7 linked regions of the Homo sapiens genome follow. The protein of the gene in region 5 interacts with the protein of the main gene of each other region in a pairwise test. Each region holds a gene or a part of one and is shown on either strand. Other genes may lie near its edges.

Region 1 (4,600 bases), on a different chromosome or scaffold from region 5:
ACTATGTTGCTCAAGCTGGTCTTGAACTCCTGGCCTCAAGTGAACCTCCCACCTCGGCCTCCCAAAGTGCTGGAATTATAGGCGTGAGCCACCATACAAAGCCAGGATTTTTTTAAAAAACACCTGCAAGCATTTGCAGTTAATGTCTCCCATGCATTAATGCTCTTACCTCCAACTTCTCCTTTACTCACTATTCCTTTACTCACTATTCAGATCAAATGTCACCTCCTTGGTGAAGCATTGCCTGACTTCATCATGAAATGCCAGTGTTTTCTGTTCTTCTAGTACTTGGCTAATACCTTAATTGTAGCATTGTTTTGTATCCTAACTATCTATTTGCTTTTGCCTCCCGAAATACATTGTGAATTCCTTGAAGACAAGGAAGGTGTTTATTCAACTTTCCATCTCTAACGTGGTATTGTAATTGGTCTATATAACCCCGTGACTCCTTTGTTAAAAAAAAACATTTGCAAGGTCAGTTTTATCACGCAGATTATCATCTGCTTTTTTGCAGATGCAGAGGAAGAGAAAAGAGTTCCTCCTTATTTCGCAGAGATTTCTTTCACTGCCTTTAGAAAGACCTAATTTGAGCACCAGAATTTAACTAGCTTAAAACTTACACAGAGGAGGCCGGGTGCAGTGGCTCACGCCTGTAATCCCAGCACTTTGGGAGGCCAAGGCAGGCAGATCACGAGGTCAGGAAGTCGAGACCATCCTGGCTAACACGGTGAAACCCTGTCTCTACTAAAAAGACAAAAAATTAGCTGGGCGTGGTGGCGGGCGCCTGTAGTCCCAGCTACTCGGGAGGCTGAGGCAGGAGAATGGCCTGTGAACCCGGGAGACGGAGCTTGCAGTGAGCAGAGATTGCACCACCGCACTCCAGTCTGGGCAACAAAGCGAGACTCCGTTTCAAAAAAAAAAAAAAAACTTACACGGAGGAAGGAATAAGACAGAATAAACAATAATAAATCTAAAAGGAATGAAAGTCAATTTAATTTTATCTTTAGAATGAGAATGACTGTCTCACTGAGGACCAAATGAAATAATGTGTGTGAAATGCTTTGTCAGTTTTGAAGAGAGATAATACAGTGACTAGACTTCCCTAACAAACCATCAGGATGCATCCTAACTCTTCTCCAACTACGGCATTTGCAGTTCACCATAACTACTCCTGGTGGTCCCTCAGCAGAAACCAGCTGGCCACAGAGTATGGGAATGGAGGCTAGAACTTGCGAGCTGAGAAGACACAAGTTGGAGTTCCAGCAATACCACAGTCTAAGTCTGTGATCTTGAAGAAGCTATATCAGCTTCTTGGATATCAGTTCCCTCCATCTCTAAAATAATGACATTAAACCTAGATGAACAAATTCTGCAATTCTGTAACTGCTCACTGAAAAGCTGAGACTACTCTAGCCAACTTTCATATTTCAAGGACTTCACCTTTTAAATTCCTGCAGAAATGGAACCAACTCAAGAACTTTAGTCAGCATGGCGGGTCCCTTGTGAAAAATAATATCAGCACTTAGCAATGCAGTGCAATTTGAGAGTCACTGGAAAAATCTTTAGTCCTCAAATTTCTCCTTCCATGAGAAGTTACTTTTTAAGTTAATATTTATTTTGTCTAACTTCCCCCTTTTAAAATGCAGATACCTTGTGAAAGGATAGTATTTTTCTCCAGTCTCGGGCTGAGTGTCTTCTTCCTTATACCTGGGCTCTCAATTATATCACTTACAAACTCCAGAAAGAACTGGCTCCCACACTTTCCCCACCCTTCCTAGAATCTCTTTTTTTTTTCTTTTTTTTTTTTTTTTGAGGTGGAGTTTCACTCTTGTTGCCCAGACTAGAGTGCAATGGCACGATCTCAGCTCACCCCAACCTCTGCCTCCCTGGTTCAAATGATCCTCCTGCCTCAGCCTCCCAAGTAGCTGGGATTACAGACATGTGCCACCATGCCTGGCTAATTTTGTAATTTTAGTAGAGACAGGGGTTCTCCATGTTGGTCAGGCTGGTCTCGAACTCCCGACCTCAGGTGATCCGCCAGCCTCGGCCTCCCAAAGTGCTGGGATTACAGGAGTGAGCCACCGTACCTGGCCAAATCTCTTTATTTTTCTATCAGCCCCTTTATTCTGTGCTCATACTACATTCAAACATATCTCTAAGCTTAATGCCAACCTTCTTTGATGCTTCTGCCTCTTCTGTAGTCTACTTTTTATTCTTTTGGTGTTACCATATTTAGAGATAGAATAGGAATCAGCAAAGAGACAAGTGGTTGAAGAATTAAAATGAGGACCAGAATGGTACTGTATCCTGGCCAACCAAGGAAGAAGAGAATTTCAAGAAGGAAGGGTTATCAGCATCGTCAAATTCAGAAAGTAAAGAAGATGAGGACGACTAAGACTGCTAGCTTCAGAAACCAACTGGAGGCTGGCCAGTGTCCTCCTTATTACCAAATCTAAACATCTTTGCTGTCAGTGGTGGAGGAGATTTGGAGTGGTTAATCAAATCTCAAAATAGAAATGGCCCCAGTTTTCAGAATGTAGACTAAGAAAAGCAAGCTTCCTGTGAACCCTTTGAAAAGTCTGATTGACCCCTTGCCTCAACTCTGATGTGGGAAGGTGGTGAAAGATCAACAAACCAACACATCTGTCTTTTAGATACAGTAACAAGAGCAACACCTTACACCTCTTCTTCTTTAGCTTATTTTATTAGAATGCAATATTATTCCTCCATTTATAATTTTTAAAACTTGAGGTTCAGATAGGGTTTAAAGTACGTCTCAAGTCTTACATCCCCCTAATACAGTGCTCCTGAAAAGATTTCTGCTGAAAACACCTCCAAGCTTTTGTCTCTGTTTTATCCTTCTAATCCTGCACTCCTTAAAGGGCCAAACCACCAGCCTTTCCTCCAAGCTTCCCCAAGGGTTTAGTAGTCCACCGACCTTTGGTAGTTGAGGAAGAGCAGAAGACTCTATGATGATATCTGGGATAGTTTCTCAAAGAAGAAAACTGCCTTGATCTATGTAGTCCTGGTTCCTCCCCAGATCAGAGTTTATCATAATACCCTGAAGTTGACTGGTAATTGCTCCACCAAAGAGTCCCTGAATTTCAGCCATGTGGTTGGCTGGTCAAGGACGGTTGATGGAAATAGATGGGCAGAAACTTTTGACGGGCCCAATGAATGATTAACAGCAGAAATAAAGCAGCACTGTTTACCTAAGCTCCTTCCTCTTTGCTAGTCCTCATTCTTCGTAACATGTCGCAATCGTTTATTTTCTCCTCTGCCAACCATTTCCCCTAAGTGGAAAGGTAATTTGAATTTGAAGCCAGAATTCTTTTTTCTTTTCATAAACACATAAGGGTTATGGCAAGACACAGTCCAGCTAGCCTGGAAACCTTGGATACTGCGAGGTTCAGAGAGCCTCCGCAAAAATGATCCACTTTCCATGACACTAGGTCCAGTATGCTTTCCTGGAGTTTGAAAACTGATATTCTTGCCCAGAGCTCGTCTCTATCCCACCCCAAGGAATTACAAAAGGTGGGGAATTTATCAAACATGCATTGGGTTTCCACTATGTGCTGAGTTATCTAGAACGTATTTGGAGTTCAGCAAATGTTAACTGCTACTACATGTCAGGCACCAGAGGGCCTCCAAAAATTGATCTATCCAGTGCGCTCAGAAGAACGCAATGAAGGACCGGCCATGTTTCCTCTCGCATAGATCTAAAAAGACCACAAGCACTTACATAGTCCAATTAAGCTACTAATCCTCAAGGTTAAGATTTGTGTGCTCAGAAGATTGCTATTAAAAGGCAATTCTTTCTGAGAACTTCACTTTTTCTGTAATAAATACTGAAAGTCCCAGAAGAGTTTCAGAAAAGGAACTAAACTACAACAGGTTGAGTTAATCAAGGAAGTTTCTACAGAAGATGTGAGATTTGGATAAAAGGTAGAAATTATTAGATAAAAGTGGTAAGGATATTAGATGTAAAGAAACCATGCGCTAGGTCACCAAGGTGAGACACTGATTTGACCAGAATGAAGATAGAGGAGGATTCCAGATTGCACAGTCTTGAGACTAAATTGGAAGAAATATCACCTTTAAAGCTGCTATTTCTTTAAAGTACCGTTTTCCAATGTATTGAAGTCCTTTCGTTTACTTTCCACAGTGACTCTTGCAGATTTTTCTCTCCAGGTCACCAAATTGTCACATTCCCTCTCAGCAGATGCTCTTACCTCCTACTTTACTAAAAATCATTCTACCTTAGCTTCATCAATGTCAAATTTTCCCTCCTATTCACTCCTCATTCCGAGGAGAATTGTTTCTTCTTTTCCTGCCTCATTTTCAATGCATCTCTCATCCTGAAATGTCCCTTCAATTTTGCCAATACCTCAAATTCCACCTTTCTTCTTTAGTGTGATGCTGAACTTCTCAAAGGTGTGACTTGTTCTACCTGCCTGTTCTTTCTCATTCATCACTCCACCTGTTGCTTTCCCATCTGGCTTCTACCACTCTTCTACTGACATGTCTCTCTGAGGCACGCCCTTAGGTCCAAGTCCAAAATATCTTTAATTCATTTCTTAGGATCTGTCTGCAGCCTTTG
Region 2 (3,971 bases), on a different chromosome or scaffold from region 5:
TTACATTAGATACTTAGTCAAAATCGCAGGGACAGAGAGTAGAAGGGTGGTTGTCAGGGGCTGGGCAGAGAGGGGAATGGGGAATAGGTACAGAGTTTCAGTTTTACAAGGTGAAAGGAGTTATGGAGATGAATGGTGATGGTTACACAACATTATGAATGTATTAATTACCACTGAACTGTACATTTAAAAATAGTTATGATGGTAAATTTTTGTTATGTTGCCTCTACTCTCCACCACACACAACTATACCTGACCTCATCACCCTCTCCAATTACTGGCCCATTTTTCTGCTCCTTTGCACAGTAAACTTTCTCCAGAGTAGCCTCAGCTTGTCTCCACTTCCCTATTACTATTCTCTCTTCAACTCACTCCAGTCTGGGGTCTCTCCCCACCATGTCCCTGAGCCAGTGACATCCATGCTGCTAAACCCAATGGTCATTTCTCTGGCTTCATCTTATTTGACCTTTCAGTAGCCATTCTCCAGCACTCTATGCTCATTTCTTTCTCGCCGCCTTCTTTTTTTTTTTTTGAAACAGGGTCTTGCCCAAGCTAGAGTACAGAGTGCAGTAGGGTGAACACGGCTCACTGCAGCCTCAACCTTCTGGGCTCAAGCAATCCTCTCGCCTCAGCCTCCTGAGTAGCTGGGACCACTGGTGCGTGCCACCATGCCCATCCAATTTTTAAACTTTTTTGTAGAGACAGGGTCTCACTCTGTTGCCCAGGCTGGTCTCGAACTCCCAGGCTCGAGCAATCCTCCTGCCTCAGCCTCCCAAAGTGCTGGGATTACAGACATGAGCCACCACACCCAACCTGCTCATTTCCACTTAGATGTTAAGACGGTGATTTCCCATACAGGGACATGCAATGAAGCACTGGAAATTGCCTGCCACATATATCCTGATGCTCAGAATCCCCCACATTGCAGTCACTCCTTAAGCCCCAGCCAAGTATTATTCTGAAGATACAACTGCGCTGGGATGCTAGGCTGCCTGTTGAGACTGGTGGTGCACCCATAGGCATGTGATTTCACATTTTATTTATTTATTTAATTTATTTTGAGATGGAGTCTTGCTCTGGACTTCACGTTTTAGAGCATCCATTTTCTCCCCTCTGCATGGGGCAGCATAGCACTACCTACCTCAAAGGGTTGCTCAGAGGACCGCATGGTAAGTGCATATGAAGCACTGGTTTGGCCTGGTGCGGTGGCTCATGCCTATAATACCAGCACTTTGGGAGGGCGAGGCAGGCAGATCACCTGAGGTCAGGAGTTCGAGACCAGCCTGGCCAACATGGTGAAACACCGTCTCTACTAAAAATACAGAAATTCGCTGGGTATGGTGGCAGGCATCTGTAATCCCAGTTAATAGGGAGGCTGAGGAAGGAGAATCATTGGAACCCAGGAGGTGGAGGTTGTAGTGAGGCAAGATCACGCCACTGCACTCCAGCCTGGGCAACAAGAGCGAGACTCGTGTCTCAAAATAAAAATAAATAAATAAACAAACAAATAAATAAATAAGCACTGGTTTGTCGGGTCTGCATGCTGCCCTTGCTCCTGTTAAAAATTGCTCCCATTTACCAAGGCTAATGGGGGAGGTGGTGGCACTGCCCTTGAGGCGAGGCGTGGTTCAGCCTCCTTGCACACTCAAATGGCCCTGAGGGAGTCCATGCTGTTACCCCTATTTACAGATGAGAAAACTAGGGCCCAAAGAAGTCCATTAAATGTATATTAATTAAAAAAAAAAATCTAAGGTTTGTTTGGCACGCTGCTGATGTTACAGTCAGAGGCCTGGCTTGGGAGCGGGGAGCATGTGGGCTCAGACTCTAGCGCCTCCTCTCACCAGCCATGGAACCCCAGAACTCTGTTTCCTCATGTGGAAAAACAGGGATGAGTATTAGAAGCAGTAACTGATAAAACACATGTGAAAATCTCTATTATAGGTCAGACCTTGCTGTCTCCTGCTGTTGATCACGTCCAGAAATAGAATCGCCTTTTGTAATATGTGTCTCTCCACCACACTCTGAATGGCTCTTACTGCTTTTCTGTCTCTAAAACAGCACCAGGCCCAGCTCAGTAGATGCTCTTCACACAAGCTTTTTTTTTTTTTTGAGACAGAGTCCCACTCTGTCGGTCAGGCTGGAGTGCAGTGGTGTAATCTCAGCTCACTGCAACGTCTGCTTTCCTGGTTCAAGTGACTATTGTGCCTCAGCCTCCTGAGTAACTGGGATTATAGGCATGCACCACCACCTCCGGCTAATTTTTGTATTTGTAGTAGAGACGGGGTTTCATCGTGTTGGCCAGGCTGGTCTGGAACTTCTGGCCTCAAGTGATCCACCTCCCTCGGCCTCTCCAAGTGCTGGATTACAGGTGTGTGCCACCGCGGCTGGCCACATAAGTTTTTTTTTTTTTTTTTTAAATCACATTTATGCCATGTCATCTTCTATAACCCATTCAATATTCATGAGGAAATTTCAAGTGTCCCCATTTGAGAGATGTGGGAACTGGGGCTTTGGGGGGTTAAAGTGATTCACTCACAGTCACCAAGTCACTAAGAAGTGAGATACAGGCTTGAACACAGGTCTCCCAATTTCAAATCCTGTGCCATCAGCTACATTTAGGTGTATCTCAGAATGTCAGAGCCTGGAGAAATGTCAGAGATGATGTTGTTGAAACCCCTTCCATTACAGATGAGGGAAACTGAGGCTGCAGAGAACACTTCCCCTGGTAATGCAGAACCAGGGCCAGGACCCAGGTCCCAAGACTGTAGTGGCTTCCTCTCTTACATGGCTTCTGGCACTCAGACCTCAAAATGATACTATTTCAGAACACAGCACGGAACATGTGTGTGTGTGTGTGTGTGTGTGTGTGTGTGTGTGTGTGTGTGTGTGTCTGTGCAGGAGAATCCCTTGAACCTGGGAGGCGGAGGTTGCAGTGAGCCAAGACCAGGAAAACTTCCTCCTCCTCCCTTCAGCAGGGATAATACTATGAGGCCATGTGACAAGGGTCGTGGGGACAGCCATGACATGAGAGCTGGCCCCACCAGACTGCTGTGTAAGCCTCTGCTCCTCTCTGGGCTTCAGGATCTTGATTTGTAAAACTCAGGTAAAAACTTCACACCCGGCTGGGCTCGGTGGCTCACACCTGTAATCCCAGCACTTTGGGAAGCTGAGGTGGGTGGATCACCTGAGATCAGGAGTTCGAGACCAGCCTGGCCAACATGGTGAAACCCTGTCTCTACTGAAAATACAAAAATTAGCCGGGCATGGTGGCATGTACCTGTACTCCTAGCTACTCGGGAGGCTGAGGCAGGAGAATTGCTTGAACTTGGGAGGCGGAGGTTGCAGTGAGCCAAGATTGTGCCACTGCACTCCAGCCTGGGTGATAGAGTGAGACTCTGTCTTAAAAAAAAAAAAACAACTTCACACCCTTGTTTATGCTTTGGGATCTGCCACCTCCACCCAAGGTCTCAGAGGACAACTGAAGCGAAGGTGGTTCCAGCTTCGGAGGGCTATGCGCATGCTGACACTTGAGTGAGGAGGCACAGCAGGAGGAGGATGGACCAGAGGGTGGGGCAGAGGTCTGGGATGGGAGATAGGCACTGGGGAGGTGTCCCAAGGGACAGATGGCTAGCACAGGGAGAAGCTCTGGTCCCTGATGAGGCCTGACAGACACAGGAGAGATCATTAGAGAAGAGTTGGGAGGCTGGGCTCTGGTCCCAGCTCTGCCATCAACTTGCTGTGTGACCTTAGGGAAGCCACTTGCCCTCTCTGGGCCTGTGTTCATTCATGTGTTAAAAGAAGGGTTGAGTTAGTTGGGGACAGCAAACTTCTATAAAGAGCTGGAGCCTGTAATCCCAGCACTTTGGGAAGCCAAGGCAGGTGGATCACCTGAGGTCAAGGGTTCAAGACCAGGCTGGCCAACATGGGGAAACCCTGTCTCTACTAAAAATACAAAAAAAAAAAAAATTAGC
Region 3 (4,491 bases), on a different chromosome or scaffold from region 5:
CGCTGGTGGTGACGGTGATGTCATCGATGTAGGTGGTGGGTGTCGTGTACAGAAGTACAGACCGCTGCAGTCCAGCGTAGTTGAAAAAGTCAAAATATGTGTTCTGGACAAAGTAACCCTTGGGATACCTAGGATGGGAGGACTGTGGTTTGCTGGGCCCTTGCTCTGGGTCCCCTGACCTCAGCTCACAGGCCTCCCTGGCCTCCCCAGATCCAAGGCCTCCACTCTGTGAAGGCCACCCAGTCCCTACCAGGAAGACCACAGGGTGGGGCGGGAAGGTGGGTGTGTGCAATGGAGGCAGGATGGTACCCACTTGGAGGTGTCAGTCAGGTATTGGATGGTCCCTGGTGGCAGGGTGGTGGGGGTGAGTGTGTTGTTGATGGCGATAGTGATTCGGAGCCGGGAGGGCAGGGGCCCCACCTGGACCAGGTTGCTGATGTCGGCCTCGAAGGGGAGGTAGCCCCCCTCATGCTCTAGCGTGTCGACCCCATTCACCCACTGCAGACACAGGAGATACGGGGAGGGGGCTGCAGGTCAGGGCATGAGGAGGCGCCCTACTATCGGGCACTCCCTCACATAACCTGCAGCATGGGGCTCCGGGGCCTTCCAGCCAGACGGGAAGAATGACATCCCAATGGGGTAGATCAGGCTACCTATCCCCCTATACAGGGCACAGCCCCCAGGGCAGGGCAGGGCAGGACCCCCCACCATCCCACCCCAGCATACATGCCGTGGGTGGCAGCTGGAGGTCCCATGCTGTTCAGCAGCCGTGCCCCCCCACCCGCCCTGCCTGCTCCTGGCCGCACTGACCACGATGGCATAGGAATGGGCACTGCCAATCCTCAGCACCACTCTTGTGCGCAGGTCCTGGGTCCATCGCTCCGGCAGGATCACCTCCCGTTCGTACCACACCCAGCCGACAAAATGCCGCAGACGCCAGTCCTGGCTGATGTCATTGAAGCTGGAGGGAACTGGCATGTCCACGGTGGGGCCTGACTGTGGAGAGAAGAGCCGGGCTCAGCTCCTAGGCCCCCAAAAGGGTCCAGGACCAGTGTGCTGCACGGCTGTGCCCCCAGGCCTAGCACAAGCCCTGACACATAGCGGGGATTCTTGGCAGAAAGGACAGATAACTTGCTGATGACAGGTCAACTGCCAGGGCGATCTGTGCACCTGGGCCAGTGGGGCCAGGAGTTCCTCCTCAGAGTGGATGGGGCACAATATCTCCTGAGACAGGAGCAAGCCCAGGGCCACATCCCAGCCAGAGGCAAGAAGGTTCAGACCTGTGACTAAGAGGCAGATGGCCACTGCCTGTCACAGGGAGGAAGGCTGGTTGGAGGAATGGGGGGAGCTTTGCTTAGGACACTGTGAGTGGGGTGCACACTGGCACCCAGCCCCCTCCTCTTTCCCTCCTGTACTGAATGCTGCAAAGTCAGAATAAGAGGATGTAGACCAGGCAAAAGCCGCCCAGACCTCACCCAGTTCCACTTCTCTGCAGATCACATCCAAGTCAGGAGGGGAACAGGGGTGGCGTCCTGGGCCTGATGTCATGTCCTGTCCTCTATGTGAACCTTGAAAACCAAGGGACTTCCTGCCTCGGCAGAGCTGACCTCAGGACATCTAAACTGTCACCTTCTCCCGATCCCCGGGCCCAGCTCTGTGCAGTGCATGCCGCTGTGGCCAGAGTGTGTGGGTGGCTCATGCCAGTAATCAGCGCTTTGGGAGGTCAACGTGGGAGGATGGCTTGAGGCCAGGAGTTCGAGACCACCCTGGGTAAATAGTGACACCCTGTATCTTTTTTTTTTTTTTAAGTTTTTTTGCCTTTTTTTTTTTTTTGGAGACGTAGTCTCACTATGTCGCCCAAGTTGGAGTGCAGTGGCATCCTGATCTCAGCTCACTGCAACCTCTACTCCCGGGTTCAAGCAATTCTCCTGACTCAGCCTCCCAAGTAGCTGGGATTACAGGCATGAACCACCACACTTGGCTAATTTTTATATTTTTAGTAGAGATGAGGTTTCACCCTGTTATGTTGGCCAGCCTGGTCTCAAACTCCTGGCCTCAGGCGATTCGCCCGCCTCCACCTCCCAAAGTGCTGGGATTACAGGTGTGAGCCACCGAGCCCAGATAATTTTTTTTTTTTCAATTAGCCAGGCGTGTTGGCACCCCCTAAATTGCAAGGCTGGGGCGGGAGAATCGCTTGAGCTCAGAAGTTAGGCTGGCGCCACTCCGCCCCAGCCTGGGAAACAGGTGCAAACCCAGTCTCAAAAAAATTTTTAAAAATTAAAAATAAATATTGAAAGGAAGGATACTGCACAGACTCAGCCTTTACCTCGGGAAAGGGCTCGGCAAGAGCCTTTTCTCCTCCTGCCTAATCCGCCCCGGCCCTCCAGGGTGCTCCTGTTCCCCCGTCCCCCAAGCCGGCGCCCCCAAGCCCGTTGACCTTTAACCTCCTGCGGGCCCCAGCTCGGAGACGCCCAGGGGAAGAAGTCTGCGGGGGGCCCGGGCTCCCCTACTCCCACCGCCGGGCTTTCGGGCGCCTCCCGGCCCTGCCCCGAGATCGCACCTCCCACAGCGGCCGCCGGTACCACTGCTCCTCGAAGCCCCGGCGTCGGTTGTCAGAGAAGTCGGCGCGGAAGCTCCAGAGGCCGTCCAGCTCCTTGCACTCCCGCGACGGGCTCTCCTGGGGGTACAGCATCCCGCCCTGCAGCCCCAGCGCGCAGCCCCACAACAACGGCCCGAGCGCCGCCCAGGCAACCGCCGACCCCCGGGCCATGCTTCCCGGTCCCCCGCTCGGCCACCGTCTGCGGCGCTAAGAAAAGCGCGGGAGGTGCCCGTAGGGCGGGTCGCGTGACGCGCCGGTGTCGTGATGCGCCTGAAGCCATCCGCGCCATCTTGGTTGAGGACGAGTGCCAGGCCTGGAGGGGCGGGGCCGGGCGCTGCCCGGTAGGGCTTGTGGCTGGAACCCCAGGCTAGGCCTTTGGGGAAACGGGACCCTCACCCTCAGCCCCAGCCGATAAGGGCGAGGTCTGCTCCCCACCCCGACCCAGGCTGGACGATCCAGGGCCGCAGGCCAGAACAGAACCCCTGAGATCGGTGGGATCCCCCTGTTTCTTCAAGGAGCACCTCCACTTGCTTTTCCCAGCAGGAATTCAAGGAGGCCCCAGCGGCGCCTCTTCCATGCCTGTCTGATGCAGCCTCTTGCAGGGATGCACGTCCTTGGGATGCGGCCATAGCCTTGACCCTGGGCTTCTGGAGCCCTGACCTTAACCCAGGGGCCAAGAGCTCCCTCTTGGTGTTGCAGGCACATAAAGATGCAGGGAGAGAGGCCAGGTGCACTTTGGGAACCCGAGGGGGGCAGATCACTTGAGGCCAGGAGTTCGAGACCAGCCTGGCCAACGATAGTGAAACCCCGTCCCTATTTTGTAAACATACAAAAAAAAAAAAAAGAATTAGCGGGGCGTGATGGTGCGTGCCTGTAATCCCAGCTACTCAGGAAGCTGAGGTAGGAGAATCGCTTGAACCCGGGAGGCAAAGGCTGCAGTAAGCCGAGATCGCACCACTGCACTCCAGCCTGGGCAACAGAGCGAGACTCTGTCTCAAAAAAAAAAAAAAAATTGCAGGGAAAGGGTGCCCTGCGGGACCCCAGTTTACTCCAGTAGGGAAGGCACCGTGTGGGAGAGGTAGAGGAGGAGATCTGGAGACAGCAAAGGAGACATAGATTTATGGAGGGGACTTTCATACAGGGACGGTGCAGTGGCCATTGCTGGACATGAGAACCACTACCATTTGTAAAAAGCATGCAGCTTACATAACATTTTCAACTAGCATCCTCGACCTGTTACTGGTGGAGTTCCGGGTGGTGAATCCCTACACATCAGCAACAACCTCAATTCTTGCCTCCTCAGAAGAAAGAATTGCACTGAGGGGCATAAGGCAGAAAGCCAGAGGGAGGTAAGCTGCAGAGCAGTAGTAAAAGCTTGTTAAAAAGCAGGCCAGTGCTGAGCGTAGTGGCTCACACCTGTAATCCCAGCACTTTGGGAGGCGGAGGTGGGGGGATCACGAGGTCAGGGGTTTGAGACCAGCCTGGCCAATATGATGAAACCCCATCTCTACTAAAAAATTAGCTGGGCATGGTGGCATGCGCCCGTAGTCCCAGCTACTCGGGAGGCTGAGGCAGGAGAATCGATTGAACGCGGGAGGCAGAGGTTGCAGTCAGCCGAGATCGCACCACAGCACTACAGCCTGGCGAGAGAGCAAGACTCAGTCTAAAAAAAAAAGCAGGCCAGGCACAGAGGTTCAGGCCTGTAACTCCAAACTCCAGCACTTTGGGAGGCCAAGGCGGGAGGATCACTTGATATCAGGAGTTTGAGACCAACCTGGCCAACGTGGAGAAACCCCATCTCTACTAAAAATACAAAAATTAGCCAGGCGTGGTGGCAGGCACCTGTAATCCCTACTATTTGGGAGGCTGAGGCAGGAGAAATGCTTTAACCC
Region 4 (3,971 bases), on a different chromosome or scaffold from region 5:
GTCGTGTGTGTGTGTGTGTGTGTGTGTGTGTGTGTGTGTGTGTGTTTGTGTGTGTGTGGTGTATGCTTTGGATAGCAATGAGTGGTGTGTAACTGCCAAGAATTCCAAAGTCAGTTTGAAAGTGTTACTGTTGTTAAAGCTTATCTTTTTAAGCATGCTTTCTCCTTGCCCAGAAAGAATAGGTATGTACATAAACTCTTTCAAGTCATATGTTAAATAATCTCATAAAGTAGAATGAGCCTGTCATTGTCCCAGACATGTGCCAAATGTCCTAGATATGAATTTGATGGAGAAAGAAAATCTCAAGTACATGAGAAGGTAACTGTGCTTTTCTATTCTGATGCAAGATGTGAGAAGTCAGTTCTACAGGGAATTTCTTGCAAGAACTTCTGAGTATTTCCAAAATGAAATTTTTTGTGTGTGTTGAGGGAGGAAAACGAGAGTATTCACATTAACTTGTCCATGGGTTAAAACATGGACATGTATATGTAATAGTAAAATAGGTGAAGCTAAGGACTGTGGCTTGATGTGTGAGGAAAGTTGTTGGGAATTCAATGTAAGCACTATATCTGGCTTCTTAAAACTTGACCTTTTAAAATTATCTTTAAACAGACTACTTCTGTAGACTGAGTTGCACAGGAATAGGTTGGTTGGCAAATGGTTTTTGCTCATTGGCTTTGTGTTTGGGTAGTTATTGTTTCCATGAAAATGAGATCGTATGTGTCATTTATTCTGTAGACTTCAACATTAACGTCCCCCCACCTCCCAAACACACACACACACACCCAATACTTTCCTTGGATGCTTTTGAAGTTCTTTGGTAATTAAAATGTCATCTATGCCTATGTTCATTTGCTTTATTTTTAATAGGGGTTATCTGTGCTTGGCACTTATTGATATTTTATGTGTCCATTATGCAGAATTCTATTTAGTTTAATCACCACCTTGTGGGAAAAAAAAGTCATGCATACATAACATGCATCTTTGTTCTCACTTTATTCATTTCCTAGCATCATTCCTCTATAAGCAGCACATGCTATCTTAAAACCTAAGCTGGCTTATTCTGTAAGTTGCCAGACTTCCTCTTTATTTGTTTAAAACTCAAACAGGCCTCTTTTCATGAATGTCTTATATCATTTTAGGGATTGTCTTGAATTTGCAGTGTTAATATAAGAAGTTTTAGGTTTCAGATTAACAAAAGAAATTATAAAATGTGACTGATGTTATAATATGAAAATAGATTGTGCATGATGTATCATTATAGGATTTTAATTAAGTACCTGTGTAACTTGGAAAGGAACCATATACATAAGGAATTTCTCAGACTTATTGCCTGTGCATTCTCAAAGGACATTTAGAGAGTTCAATTTTCTGCAAAAAGAAAAAAGTGTATTTTCTTAAGATTATTTCACACTCTGTCTTATTTACCTATCTGATAAGTTGTTACTTTTTAAACAAGTAGAAATTAATATTTTAGGCATGTCTCAGAAAATGTTCTGTGTTCATTTTGCAGGTGAAAAGTGTGTGGAATTTTTGATGGGATGGGAGAATCTTAAATGAAATCTTAAATGATTTGAGAAGTATATTATGACAGGAAATTTAAAAACCTGATAACGCAATCTTAGTTAATTTAGGTATTAACTTATGTCAAGTGAGTTCTTCAAAATAAATATCAAAGGTTTTCTTAACCTGATAGGGAGCAGAAATATCTCCAATATCTCTGAAGAAAAAGTTGCTAATTAGCAGAAACAAATTCTTGAATGTAGTGAAGGGGACAATTTAATGATTCAGGGGCTACTTAAATCAGACCATCTGATTTTTCCCCTTTGAATCACTAATTTCCAGATTGATTTGAAATATTCTTTGTTAATGATATCCTATTTGAAATTTCATAACCAGGTTGACCCAAGTAGATTAGAGGCCCATACAAAGATGATTTTCTAAAAGAAGTCAAGTGTAGGCTTGCACAATTTCTTCAAATAATTTTATCAACAAAGACAGATCATCTAAATAATCCAAGCAGGAAACCATGCCAACCTTACACTCTCCCTGCCTCATAAAAGATTTGTCTGAACTATCTGGATAATTACCGTAATGAAACACTTCTTTGTCCAGAATCTGGACTCCAGATAGATGCAGTAAAAGTTGAATCCTCCTCCCCGAAATAACTTCTTTATTAAAGTAGAGCACTTAACCACTTTATACTTCACGCTGCAGTGTTCCTTTGAAATTCTTTACTGAAAATTCTTTCCTCCTAACCTTAAGTCATCAGTTTCCTTAGAATTTTGCATGTTAAAGAGAATGTCAGATAATTCAGATATTAAAGGAGACTCTTTTGGAGTAGTTAAAACCTGTTTTGATTATACCTGGATGTTTATTCTTCTAATATCTTTTTCTGGGAGGAATCTGCTATGTTAAGATATGCATTGTATAAGAATTACTAAAGCATTTGTGTAGGTTATATACGAAGTGATGCAACAAAATATTTAATGATGAAAAACTCTATATAGACTTTCACATTAATTAAAGAGGGGTTTACAGGAATAGAGTAAGTGTATCCGATCAATAATACATTTGGGTTCAAATTCTCATCAGTATTTTTCTGCATCCTTGCTGATTTGGACATCCACCAGTGTTGATCAAAAGCTTCATATTGCCTAGTGAAACTGAAAATTAATGTTAAAATGCAAATATGATATGCATCAATAATAATTGCAGGTGAAACATGATAGCTTAATACATATCTTGAGAAATAAAGGAGTTTAAAAAATATCAATGATAAAGTCATTCCATGGCTTCCTTTAAATTCTGAACTGGAATATCATGGAAGCACTTGGGAAATGTTTTTAAGAGATTTAATTTATATTATGGTAACGTAACAGTACATTTTCTTATGTGGTAAATATATTCATATAGATATCTTGTTTATGAAATGTGATGCTAATAAAGTGCTGTGTCAACCGGTTATTATTATTTAATCATGCCTATAGCTTCCATGGGTTATGGTTCCAGTGTGTGCTACCACTATACTTTTATTTCTAAATTAAATCTAAGCTATATGGAGAGATATATTTATTTGTGCCTATTAATATAATGCCTTGTCCTGGATTATATAATTTATCTTATTTTTCCCATTTGTTTTGTCTTATTTGTTATGTTCCAGCTGGACATTTTACAACAAGACCTAAAAGTATTTAAATTCTTTTAGCCCAAGACAGATACAAATCGTTATTTAATCTAAAAATGTTGACTGAAATAGAATTACAAAATTAGTTTAGTTTGGTGAATATCAAGGGAGTTATATCTTGTTCTTAACAGACTCCACAAGCATTTCTTTCCACCTTAGGAAGAGCACAGCCCTCCTCTTGGCTCCAGCATGGGGCAGGGATGCAGCTGTTGATACCTAGGCTAGATGAGAGGAAGTGCAGTTGACGCAGAGGTAAATGGCAGTTGGAAAAGGAAGGATGCCTGGGGATGACCTTGTGCTCATCAGCGACACCAGTCTGTCCTTTCCAAGCCTCTGTGGCAGAGCTGCTCTTCCCACAGCAAGGATGGCAGGAGGAAAGTCCAGTTTGGGTGTTAGGGTGAACAGGGAGAGAAAAAATACTGCAAAAAGTTTGTTTGACATTTTGATTGGAGATCCATGTGCTTTGCAGGTGATAGTCAAGAGAAAAGGATTTGCATACAAATAGAAAAGATGTAAAATTTAAAAATAAGGGCAATAAGCTCTATTTTGGGGAAGGTGATATACACACAGAAAAAAGTCTTCCTTGTAACCGCCCCCCATGCAAGTGTTTCTTTGATTAACAGAGCTTTGAAATGATTCATCCTTTTTCTTGTCTCAGCCTCTCCTTGTTCTTTCTGTCATCTGACAGCTAACCTGATTTATCAGATCTAATGTGTTTGTGTAGTATTTGTCACTGCATTTTTGTATTCCTGAAACCAATTTTATTATTAGTGTTTGAAAGGGT
Region 5 (3,971 bases):
AAAGAAGGAAAGATGACTGATCTTTGGCCATTTAAATGATATTCAAGACTAACCTATAGATTTATTTTTCAAGGACTTTATTAATAAAGAAAAATTTAAATAATTTTACAGTGAGCACTTTTTTTTTTTTTTTTTTTTGAGACAGAGTCTTGCCCTGTTACCCAGATTGGAGTGCAGTGGCATGGTCTCGGCTCACAGCAACCTCTGCCTCCCAGGTTTAAGTGATTCTCCTGCCTCAGCCTCCCGGGTAGCGGGATTACAGGTGCCTGCCACCATGCCCAGCCAATTTTTTTTTTTGTATTTTTAGTAGAGACAGGGTTTCAGCATGCTGGCCAGGCTGATCTCGAACTTCTGGCCTCAAGTAACCCACCCGCCTTGGACCCTCAAAGTGCTGGGATTACAGGTGTGAGCCACCATGCCTGGCCTAGAGTGAGCACTTAGATGTCTACTACCCAAACCTTACAATTAACTTTTTACTATACTTGTTTAATCACATATCTATGTATATATTTGCTTTTAAGTTCAAGAAATAACTAAGAGTATTAAAAAACAGAAGAGTACATTCTGTAATTCTTGATACTTGATTTGGAATCTGACTACAGCTCAAACATCACTGTGTTATAAAGGATCAAGTAAAAGACTGGAAGCTTAGCACACTGGTTCATGATTCTAGCCTTCCTCAACTTTGCCAGGCTGAGCTTATATGCATTTGAAATGTCTTCATCTGTAAAATAAAATAACGTACATCTTTAAAGGGGTTCAATATCAACATATACAACTTAGCTACTTAACAAGGAATCACACCCAACAAAAAAATCCCAGAGAGAAGTAGCGAGAATCTAGGTCTCTTACCTTGCATAATCAACGGGAGTTTTCCCACTAGAATCCTGTGTGCCTGGGTCTGCTCCATATACTGCCAATAATTCAGCCTGTAAAATCTGCCCTGCTTTGGAGGCAACATGGAGTGGGGTGTTTCCTTTTTCCTAAGAATCATTAATAAAAAGTAGGCAAAAGAGCACATTAAATAAAGGCTACATGAACACAACTCACTTAGTTTCAATATCTGAAGCAATTCATGTTTTCTTACAGGATGAAAGAAGTTGGCTTGTGCTCCTAAAGATAACAGTCTCAAACAGGTTTCAAGATTCCCTGTTCTCACGCTCGAATGGAGTTGCTGAAAAACGCAGAAACAAAAAAGGAATCGTGGTTAGAGGTGTAAAGAATGATGTCCTAGGGCAGCTGATAGACCATTTTAATATATGTTACATCAGTAACGCATAATCTTTATTTGTCTCGGTAAAGTGCATGGACCAGTCTCTCCTTTGCCAGTCACAACTGTCCCTGGGCTGTAAGGTGGAGTGAGGCCACTTTACTGATAAGGAAACTAGGGCTGTGAAGGCTGACTTGCCCAAATGCATGACTTATCTAAGAAGTGGCACAACCAGAACCTGAGTGAGAGGCAGGACTGTGTGAAGAGGTGACTATGCGTGGCTCTGACATACGACAGACCTGAATTTCAAACTATACCCACTTCAAGCTGTGTGGCCTGGAGAAAGGGCTTTAAGCAATCTGAACCTCACTTTCCTCATCTCAAAAATGTCAACAATGGCCAGATGCAGTGGCTCATGCCTGTAATCCCAGCACTTTGGGGGGCTGAGGTTGGAGGATCACTTGAGCCCAGGGGTTTGAGACCAGCCTGGGCCACATAGCAAGACTCTGGCTCTACAAAAAATACAAAAATTAGTTGGGTGTGGTGGCATGCGCACCTGTAGTCCCAGCTACTAAGGAGGCTGAGGTGGGAAGATCACCTGAGCCTGGGCAGTGGAGGCTGCAGTGAGCTGTGATCATGCCACTGCACTCCAGCCTTGGTGACAGAGCGAGACCCTGTCTCAAAAAAAATAAAAAATAAAAAAAATTTTAAAAGGTGGCATTTTTCTTTTTAGAAAGGGTCTCGCTTGCTCTGTCATCCAGGCTGGAGTGCAGTGGAGTGATCATGGCTCACTGCAGCCTCAGTATCCTGGGCTCAAGCAATCCTTCCACCTCAGCCTCCCAAACAGCTGGGACTACAGGCGCCGGCCACCATGCCCTGCTAACTTTTTATTTTTCAATACAGATGAGGTCTCACTATGTTGCCCAGGCTGATCTCGAACTTACGAGCTGAAGTGATCCTCCCACCTCGGCCTCCCAAAGTGTTGGGATTACAGGCATGAGCTACCGTGCCTGGCCCTATTCACAGGGTTATTATAAGGATTTAGTGATATAATAAAGTGCTCAAAGAATACAAATGCTATAATAACAGTTATTATTATTAGTTGTTACTGTAATTAGGGCTTTAGGACTTCAAATTCTACACTGTGTAAGCTACAGGATCCTGCCTTATACAATACCCTCTCTACCACATTATTCTTGGCCTGTATAATATGCTTTAATAAAGTCTTTCAGGGTAGGAAAAGGCCCGTGATATACCGAATTCTGTACTACTGCAGAAAAGCTCTTATACAGTCAGAAGATGAGCTGCCTTCCTTCAAATCTAACCTAGAATTGTCCAAGATGCAGTAACCCTTATCACAGGAATGAAGAAATCTACTCTAACATCTAAGTTTAATTTTTTAAATAGTTTTTTTGTTTTTTAAACACAGGGTCTCGTTATGTTGCCCAGGCAGGACTGAACTCCTTGGCTCAAGCAACCCTTCCACCTCAGCCTCCCAAGTAGCTAGTATTACAGGGATGTGCCACTGTGCCTAATTTTTTAAAACTCTGGCAAGGAAAAAAAAACAAAAAACAAAAAACCCAACACATACCAAGTCTTATTAATCAATGGAAGTAGCTAGTATATGCATTTCTATGCAAAATTTCAAATTCTGAATTCTTCAGCCAGATTCTGCTGGGGATTAAAAAAGGGGGGGGAAAAAAGGCCAGATGTGGTGGCTCACGCCTGTAATCCCAGCACTTTGGGAGGCCAAGGCAGGCAGACTGCTTAAGCCCAAGAATTTGAGACCAGTATGGACAACATGGTGAAACCCCATCTCTCCAAAAAGTCAAAAACTGGCCAGGCGCGGTGGCTCATGCCTGTAATCCCAGTACTTTGGGAGGCCGAGGCAGGCAGATCACTTGAGGTCAGGAGTTCAAGACCAGCCTGGCCAACATGGTGAAACCCTGTCTCTACTAAAAATACAAAAAAAATTAGCCGGGCATGGTGGTGGGCACCTGTAATCCAAGCTACTCAGGAGGCTGAGGCGGGTGAATCGCTTAAACCCAGGAGGTGGAAGTTGCAGTGAGCCGAGATCGTGCCACTGCACTCCAGCCTGGGTAACAGAGACTCTATCTAAAAAAAACAAAAACAAAACACACACACACACACACTAGCCAGGCTTGGTGGCACATGCCTGAGATCTCAGCCACTTGAGAGGCTGAGGTGGGAGAATCATTTGAGACTAGGGAGGTTGAGGGTGCAGTCAGCCATGATTGTGCCACGACACTCCAGCCTGGGCAACAGAGTGAGACTCTGTCGTTTAGGCTGGAGTGCCGTGGCATGATCTCAGCTCACTGCAACCTTCGTCTCCCCAGTTCAAGAGATTCACAGCTGAATTCTACCAGACATACAAAGAAGAACATCCTACTAAAATTATTCCAAACAATCAAAGAGGAGAGACTCCTCCTTAACTCATTCTGTGAAGCCAACATCAGCCTGATACCAAAATCTGGCAAAGACACAACAAAAAAGGAAAACTTCAGGCCAAAATCCATGATGAACACAGATTTTTTAAAAAACTCTTAACAAAATATTAGCAAACCAAATCCAGTAGCACATCAAAAGTTAATCCACCATGGCTGGGCGCAGTGGCTCAGGCCTGTAGTCCCGGCACTTTGGGAAGCTGAAACAGGCGGATCATGAGGTTAGGAGTTCGAGACCAGCCTGGCCAACGTGGTGAAACCCCGTCTCTACTAAAGATACAAAAAATGGCCGGGCG
Region 6 (3,971 bases), on a different chromosome or scaffold from region 5:
TGTAACACTCGCCTTGGCAATCAGTAAGTGCTCAATCACTCTTCATTTCCTCCCTTGCCTGCCAACCCTTTTACTTTACCTGTTTGGCAGCAAACAGCTTGCCCTGGTATTTATTAATGACCGTGTAACCACCTGGTACTTGGCGATCCTCATACCAGGCAATGGGTATCAAGAAATCACGAGGATTGGCCAAGCCATTGGCCCCTAGAAAACAGTAACCCAAAAGTCTTTTAGAAACTTCCAAAACATAGGAAAGATGCCCATGGTTGCATGAAGAGAAAGGCTTTCTTTCATGTCAAGAGCTACTCCACAAATTGCTTTCATTGCTCAAAGATTCACTGCATTTCCAGTCTGGTACCTTTTAGGAAGACCCAAGGAATCTGGTCAGAAAAAAATTCACAAAAACCAGCATTACTTTCTAAGGTTGTGGAGTGACTATGGTTAACAAAACAATCTTATATGCATTATCTTATCACTACAGGTGAGGGGAAGGGAAGAGAGAAAGAGAACTGAAAAGAGGAAAAGGGAAGATCTGATAGAACTCCAGAACTTTTTCTTTTGAAGGAACCCTTGAATATTCTAGAAGTCATTGACAGTCCTTGATCTCAGATAGAAAGGGTTACACGCTGTTGCCTAAGGCATGCCTCTGCTCCCTAGACAGAACTCAGATTCCAGTCTGAAAACGGTTCTCCAGCCTGAAAAACCCTGTCTGCCACTCAGGAAGAAGTATTTAGGACCTGCCTGCTTACCTTTGCTTAGGAGTGAGTGTTTCCTCCAGAGAAAGGAAATAAATCAAAAGACCAAACATGAAAAACTTAAGTGCAAAAACAGTTTAACTCTGAGAGGAGCGAGCTGAGGAGTGTTTTATCATTTCCAGCTCCTGGACTTAAAAAAATAAGTCCCCGGCTGGTTAGCAAATTATAGATATTTTCCAGAGGGTACATGTTCCACGGAACCTGGAGGCTATGCTGACTATAGAGCAGCAGGAAGCCAGAGCAGAGTGGGAAGAGTGGGAGGTGAACAGGATGACAGACGGCCCACCACGGCTCCAGCTGCCTCTTGCTGCCTCCCACCTTCCTCTGCATATTTGGATTCCTCAGAGGAGCTGACCAGAAGGCACACACTGGCCTGTCCCTGTTTGCTCTAAAAAGCTGTTGACAAGGAAGGGAAGAATTGGGAGATGTGACCAAAGAGTAAACCAAGGGCCAATTTTCCCAGCCATTTCTTTCAATCCAAGAGACAGTTTGAGAACAACCCCTCCTAACATTTTCACTTCCTCCAGCTTGCCAGAAGAATGGGGGCTGTGGAGACCTTGGTTCACTTTGGAATGTTTTAATCTGCCTCCTGGGGTGTGGTTTCTAGATCTCTCATAGCACTGAGTGATGTGTTTTTTTGACTGCTAAGTGTGTGGATTTGGTGGGGTGTACACAGAGGTTCATAGACTATGTGTCACCCAGTCCATCCCTCCTTTCCATAGGAATACAGCCCAGGGCATTTTTATGGCCTTCCCATTTTATACAATATGCAAAACAAAAAGCAATCCAAACCAATCCATTATAAATCTCACTGACTTAACAAAAATATCTTCCTCCTAATCACAAAGCTTATTCTCACTTATATGCTTTTGCAAAGCTGTTCCCTTTCCTCTTTACTCTCCTCAACTTTTCATAAAGAATTAGTCAAATTCTCATCTCTTCTGTGGAGCTGTTTCTGGTGACCCAAGCCCACAGTAACCCAAACTTCTATATTCTTTCCTGTACACACTATGCAACCAGAAATCTATTACATGCCGTCTTTATCTCCAATGTCTGTATACTATTCTAGAGAGATTTATAATGGATTGGTTTGGGTTGCTTTCTGTTTTGCATATATTTTCTGGGAAGACACTTGGTCTAGAGAAGAATTTGTCTAGAGAGAAAAGTGGAAGTTTGAGTGAGACAGCGAAGGGAGAAGGATGTTTAACTTTCATGCAATTATCTGAGTCCTACATCTCAAGCGAGGCTTAGAGGCTTGTAATGAAGATTTACCAATTGGTCCAAGGTCAGGTAACTCAAAGTGGACACCATAGACCTCCAAGATGTAGCCCCTGGTCTCCTCAAAGACATCTATGCTGAACCGCATTCCTCTCTGGAATGGAAAGCAGACACTGGTGTGCCCTCTGAAATCACAGCTGTAGTTATAAAGAAGCTGCCCAGAGCCATAGCCCATCCCACATGCAAAAGTAAAGCTCTTGTTTGTTGAGCTGCTTGGGAGGTGACCAGAGCAAACATGAAAAACTGAATTTTTTTAAAAAGAAATTTTTAAAATTCAGTTTAAAAAGAAAAACTGAATTCCTAATCACACATGTGACCCAAGCCAATTCTAGTCTACCCTCTCATTGGGTCCAGAGATAATGGTAAGCCTGATTTAGCCACACTAAAAAAAAAAAAAGTCCACCTTCACTGCCTCTACTGCCATTAGTGGGAACAGGGCCTTATCCAGAGTATATGTAAATATTTAGGAAAGTGCAATGACAAGTGGTCTTTCCTTTAGAATTATGTGCTATATTAAAAGAAAGCAGGCACCCAAGCTTGCTTACTCTTCAGCACATGGAACCTTCTGCATAACTCAGATTCCCTCCTCGTTGCCCAGACATGACAGAGAAATTTTAGAGTTGGAAATAGCAGCAGCTGAAACATCTGACTGCTCCCAAATTAGTGAGAGGCAGGGAAGAGAAGGGGACACATCACCAACCTGAATGACGCAGATCTCATTGGGCTGTACAAGCATCTTGCCAAACTCGGTGTAAATGAGAAGGTTCCCTTTCTGCGGAACTGACAAAAAAAGACAGGGCAGTGGTGAGCAATTCTTTTGGTGTGATAACCATTTCATGAACAGGAAAGGCTTAAGGCTGCATTTGCTTTTCCATTCCAAATGCAAAGAGCTTTATTGAGTCTCTTGGGGAAAAAGATAAATTCTGACAACTTAGATTAGCTATTTTCCTATCTAGAAGAATGTGAATAAAACAATGACTCTGCTTTTTTGGTCACCAGGCAAGGAACTTGTATATGCACAATTTTGTGACATGGTCAAAAAGGGGTAGCAGAAATAGGATGGAAAATCACCCATTTCTGATAGTTCCAGTGAAAGGCTGACATTTGCTTGTGTGACATATACACGAAAATGTTGATTCCAAAATATTGATACTAAAAAACCATCAAGTATAATAGGCAGACCAGAACAATCTCTGATAGACTTTACATTTTAGATGGTCTCATGAAAATTTGAATTTAAATTGCAGTTACTAATGATAAATGGGCTTTTACTGAGAGAGTTTCAAGGCAAATACAGTTACCGTAATAAGTTAATCCCATTAGTATTAGTCTTCATTTCTTTTCAGCTGCCCAGGTCTCCCACATCAGAAAGGTCCAGAAGAGATGGGCAAAGACAGAGAGACAAGGAAATAGAGTAGGGGCTTTGAGGTACACTAGAAATCTTTTCCAGACCACCTGTGGCCTCTAGACCTCAGTCTCTGGATTGCACTAAATGAAATAAGACAGATTGGAGAATGAAGGAAAATAATGTGTATAAAATTAGAAAGCAGCTTGCGGTTAGGGGTCAATTAACAGTGAGGGGGTCTGAAGTCTTCAGAACTCACCAATCAAGAAGTCCCCATCTGAATTGTAAAAGCATCTGAAACATATAGAGTAATTCTTGTGATTTTCAGTTTTAACATTGTCTAGACAAATTACGTCATAACACAAATCATTGTTTAGTGCCTATGTAGCAAGCTCAGAGCTGGGTATAAAATGGGGAGCAAAATGACCCAGGCTCTGCCCTTGTGGAACTTAGAGTCTAGTGGGGAGTCAGAGAGCAATCAAATAATTACAGAACAATATCTTTGCAGACTGTAATGACCCTGTGAAAATCAAGTTTGAGGGAATGAAAGAATAGCGACTTGGTTAGTTTGAAGAATCAGCAAAGGCTTCTTC
Region 7 (3,971 bases), on a different chromosome or scaffold from region 5:
AGGCTCATTCTCAACATTTGTACATGAAAGAGACTTACACTAATGGCATAAAAAAAAAGTCTGAAGATTTCTAACTCAGACATATCAGAGGTGACACCATCTATACAAACGAAAGAATAAATATAACCAGCAACTGTGTAAAGACACAAAAAAGAAAAGACCCACCATATTTTAATAGTGCTTTATCTTTCATTCTGCCTGTTTACTTCCTTGAATCTGGGTATGCAAAATATTACCTAGTCTCATCCCCTAAGTTAAATAAACAACTCCAAAAGATCTTGCTTTATCAAACATCTTTTGAAAGCATGGGAAGGAAATGTCATGACAGTTTAATTACTTGGGACCTGCTTCCTAGACTTTTAAATCATTTTTAGGGGTTTGGTCCTTCCAAGTCTTCCCTTGAAAATTAAAGTAACATTTAACATAACTCTGTTATAAAAGAACTATGAAAAGCAGTTTAACTAGTTTTATAACTCTTATAAAGAAAACTAGTTTTATAACTCTTATATTTTAAGTTATAAAAATATAAAAGTTTGATAACTCTTATATTAAGGCCAAGATGTATACTGTCAATCTGCTTCAAATAGGGCAAAATCAGTACATTAAAAAAAGATATAGTAATACACAGGATGATGAAGGTTTGTTTTTTGTGGTTTTTTTGTTTGTTTGTTTTTGTTTTTGAGACAGAGTCTCGCTCTGTCGCCCAAGCTGGAGTGCAGTGGTACGATCTTGGCTCACTACAACCTCCACCTGCTGGGTTCAAGAGATTCTCCTGCCTCAGCCTCCCAAAGTAGCTGGGATTACAGGCGTGCACCACCACGCCCGGCTGATTTTTGTATTTTTATGGAGATGGGGTTTCACAGTGTTGGTCAGGCTGGTCTCGAACTCCTGACCTCATGACCCTCCCACCTCAGCCTCCCAAAGTGCTAGGATTACAGGCGTGAGCCACCACGCCCAGCCAAAGGTTTTTGTTTTTCAATTAATCATCCTATGTACAAAGAAAACACTCCTAAAGAAGATTAGCATGTTTTTGACCAGGCACAGTGGCTCACGCCTGTAATCCCAGCACTTTGGGAGGCAGAGGCGGGCAGATCACGAGGTCAAGAGATCAAGACCATCCTGGCCAACATGGTGAAACCTGGTCTCTACTAAAAATATAAAAATTACCTGGGCGTGGTGGCGGGTGCCTGTAATCCCAGCTACTTGGGAGGCTGAGGCAGAAGAATTGCTTGAACCCAGGAGGCAGAGGTTGCAGTGAGCTGAGATTGTGTCACTGCACTCCAGCCTGGGCAAAAGAGCGAGACTCTGTGTCAAAAAATAAATAAATAAAAACAAAAATTCACCATCTTTTATCTATACTTCCAGAGTTTGAAAACCTAAAATTTTTATTAACACATTTAGTGGCAAAACCTGACCTGAAACCAGGTCTATTTTCAATCTGTCTTTCTCCACTTGCCATGACAATATCTTTCCCTCAGAAATGTTTCATGATAGAGTGCTAACTCTATCTACCCTAACTCTATCTATAAACCCCACTGGGGGTGTCATATCCAGTATGTGCATCATATTACCGTCTTAAATTGGAATTGCTTTAACTTCCAAAGCACATCTGGCCCCCAGGGTTTTACAGAAAAGATACGGGACCTGTATCACTGAAGGAAAATAAATGTCTGAATCCACAAAATCAGTTATTGAAGACTGATGTAAACACTTAACTTTCTGTTATATCTAGTTTTCCCGTATAGTTAACAGTGAAAATCTGAAACAAGTCAATTTCTCTGTACTTTTTGTTTAAAGTGTTGAGTGATGGCATTCATCATCATTTTTGGAAACTGTTCTCTCAAAAAAGCTTTCAGCAAAATATAATCAGTCTTGGACTGAATCAAAGTAACTGTACCTTACATATGAGGTCTGTTTTCTATGGATTCAGACACCACCTGCATGGAAACTGTTGCCAAATTCTCTTTAGACCAAGCATTTCCATGCTCTGCCTCTAAGGTATCTTGTTTGCTGAGGAACCAAAAAGAAACTAAGTAACCTGGAATCTATAATTCTCTCAAAGCTGTTTTCTTAATCTAAATCTACCTAAATGATGATTATACTTAATTACAAACACTCTAGTTCCAAATAAAAAATTAAATATAGGCCAGGCATGGTGGCTCACGCCTATAATCCCAGCACCTTGGGAGGCCGAGGTGGGTGGATCACCTGAGGTCAGGAGTTGGAGACCAGCCTGGCCAACACGGTGAAACCCCGTCTCTACTAAAAATACAAAATTAGCCGGGTGTGGTGGTGCACACCTGTAATCCCAGCTACTTGGGAGGCTGGGTCAAGAGCATCGCTTGAACCTGGGAGGCGGAGGTTGCAGTGAGCCAAGCTCCGTCTCAAAAAAAAAAGAAAGACATTAACAACCCTAGATGCCAGAAGACAATAGGGCAAAATAATACTTTCCAAGTTCTGGAAAAATGTTAACCTAGTATTCTATACCTAGCCCAAAGCTATTTTCAGACATACAGGACTCAGAAAGTTTACCTCCTGCCATCCTTTCTGAATAAATTACTTAAGGATGTTCTTCAACAAAATATGAAGAAACCAAGGAAAAGGAAAATACACCCAGGATGGAGTGCGGTGGTGTGATCTCAGCTCACTGCAACCTCCGCCTCCCCGGTTCAAGCAATGCCTCCTGCCTCAGCCTCCACAGTAACTGGGATTGCAGGCGTCCACTACCACACGCGGCTAATTTGTGTATTTTTAGTAGAGACGGGGTCTCGCCATGTTGGACAGGCTAGTCTTGAACTCCTGACTTCAGGTGATCCACCTGCCTAGGCCTCTCAAAGTGCTTTACAGGTGTGAGCCACCGTGCCTGGCCAGGAAGCTGTCTTTAATAAGTTACAGGACATCAGTACACAGCCTACCTTAAGCAAAGAGAACTCTAGGGAAGAAAGCAGATTCATGTGATAGATATTATGATTAAATATCTTCAAAAAGTCTGCAAACACACTGAGGGCAAATTTTTCTTAACAAGAAAAATGAAAAGCTATTGAGGAATAAATCCATATAAAAAAAGTCCTAATTCAAATAAGGAGCAAACTAAAATGTGGCATGTTTTGAGCAAATGATGGTATGTTGGGGGGAAAAGAAGAGTCATCTAATCCTGGCAATAGGAATATACATACAGTAGCACAGACTTAAGAAAAATATAATCCCAGAACACTACTAACCCTCAGAGAATAGGTACTGTCAACTCCTCAGACAGGCCTTCCTTAATCACACTAACCCTTCACTCCGCTTTATTTTTATTCCCTTAGCATCTGCTATTACCTAAATTGTATCACATGCATTATTTCATTGATTCTAATACACATTATTCTCATTTTTTAACCCCGCTGAAACCAGCATGCATTTTAGAATCGATACATTTACAACTACTGTCAGCCAGGTGGCAGCCTTGTTACTGTGTGAAAAACCTCCTGTGGCTAACTCCTGGAAAGATTACAAAAGCGCCAGCATCAAAATGCTTCACATCAGACAAAAGACAATCTTTCTTTACTTGCTGGGATATAGCTCCCCCACTACACTCTCAGCAACAAAGAACAGTAATTCATTTTTTTAAAAAAATCTTCATATCCTCTAACATAGAACGGTGACTGGTACGCAACAGATATTTGATCTGTGTTAATTTTTTTTTTTAGACGGAGTCTCACTCTGTCACCCAGGCTGGAGTGCAGTGGACCATCTGGCTCACTGCAGCCTCTGCCTCCTGGATATCAAGCGATTCTCCTGCCTCAGCCTCCCCAGTAGCTGGGATTACAGACGCCCGCCACCACGCCCGGATTTTTTTTCTTTTTTGAGATGGGGTCTCACTCTGTCGCCAGGCTGGGGTGCAATGGCGCAATCTCAGCTCACTGCAATATCCGCCTCCTGGGTTCAAGCGATTCTCCTGCCTCAGCCTCCCAAGTAGCTGAGACTAC

What was found.
Region 1: the proteins of GIT2 (region 5) and C4BPA interact in a two-hybrid assay, tested with the Homo sapiens proteins (one large-scale study listed by BioGRID and IntAct).
Region 2: the proteins of GIT2 (region 5) and E2F2 interact in a two-hybrid assay, tested with the Homo sapiens proteins (one large-scale study listed by BioGRID and IntAct).
Region 3: the proteins of GIT2 (region 5) and GUSB interact in a two-hybrid assay, tested with the Homo sapiens proteins (one large-scale study listed by BioGRID and IntAct).
Region 4: the proteins of GIT2 (region 5) and PROX1 interact in a two-hybrid assay, tested with the Homo sapiens proteins (one large-scale study listed by BioGRID and IntAct).
Region 6: the proteins of GIT2 (region 5) and HGD interact in a two-hybrid assay, tested with the Homo sapiens proteins (one large-scale study listed by BioGRID and IntAct).
Region 7: the proteins of GIT2 (region 5) and LMNB1 interact in a two-hybrid assay, tested with the Homo sapiens proteins (one large-scale study listed by BioGRID and IntAct).

What each region holds. Positions count from the first base shown.
Region 1 is NC_000001.11:207,102,769-207,107,368, reverse strand, and holds the start of C4BPA (C4b-binding protein alpha chain precursor), read right to left. Parts: upstream 3,137-4,600; 5' UTR 2,939-3,136; intron 1-2,938. UniProt on the Homo sapiens protein: Controls the classical pathway of complement activation. It binds as a cofactor to C3b/C4b inactivator (C3bINA), which then hydrolyzes the complement fragment C4b.
Region 2 is NC_000001.11:23,510,722-23,514,692, forward strand, and holds part of E2F2 (transcription factor E2F2), read right to left. Parts: intron 1-3,971. UniProt on the Homo sapiens protein: Transcription activator that binds DNA cooperatively with DP proteins through the E2 recognition site, 5'-TTTC[CG]CGC-3' found in the promoter region of a number of genes whose products are involved in cell cycle regulation or in DNA replication.
Region 3 is NC_000007.14:65,979,414-65,983,904, forward strand, and holds the start of GUSB (beta-glucuronidase isoform 1 precursor), read right to left. Parts: upstream 2,801-4,491; 5' UTR 2,771-2,800; coding exon 2,561-2,770; intron 997-2,560; coding exon 811-996; intron 499-810; coding exon 314-498; intron 129-313; coding exon 1-128. UniProt on the Homo sapiens protein: Plays an important role in the degradation of dermatan and keratan sulfates.
Region 4 is NC_000001.11:213,990,657-213,994,627, forward strand, and holds part of PROX1 (prospero homeobox protein 1), read left to right. Parts: exon of another isoform or gene 1-318; intron 319-3,971. UniProt on the Homo sapiens protein: Transcription factor involved in developmental processes such as cell fate determination, gene transcriptional regulation and progenitor cell regulation in a number of organs.
Region 5 is NC_000012.12:109,982,521-109,986,491, forward strand, and holds part of GIT2 (ARF GTPase-activating protein GIT2), read right to left. Parts: intron 1,175-3,971; coding exon 1,088-1,174; intron 984-1,087; coding exon 853-983; intron 7-852; exon of another isoform or gene 1-6. UniProt on the Homo sapiens protein: GTPase-activating protein for ADP ribosylation factor family members, including ARF1.
Region 6 is NC_000003.12:120,644,240-120,648,210, forward strand, and holds part of HGD (homogentisate 1,2-dioxygenase), read right to left. Parts: intron 3,673-3,971; coding exon 3,638-3,672; intron 2,814-3,637; coding exon 2,734-2,813; intron 2,128-2,733; coding exon 2,028-2,127; intron 381-2,027; coding exon of another isoform or gene 328-380; exon of another isoform or gene 205-327; coding exon 80-204; intron 1-79. UniProt on the Homo sapiens protein: Catalyzes the conversion of homogentisate to maleylacetoacetate.
Region 7 is NC_000005.10:126,779,909-126,783,879, reverse strand, and holds part of LMNB1 (lamin-B1), read right to left. Parts: intron 1-3,971. UniProt on the Homo sapiens protein: Lamins are intermediate filament proteins that assemble into a filamentous meshwork, and which constitute the major components of the nuclear lamina, a fibrous layer on the nucleoplasmic side of the inner nuclear membrane.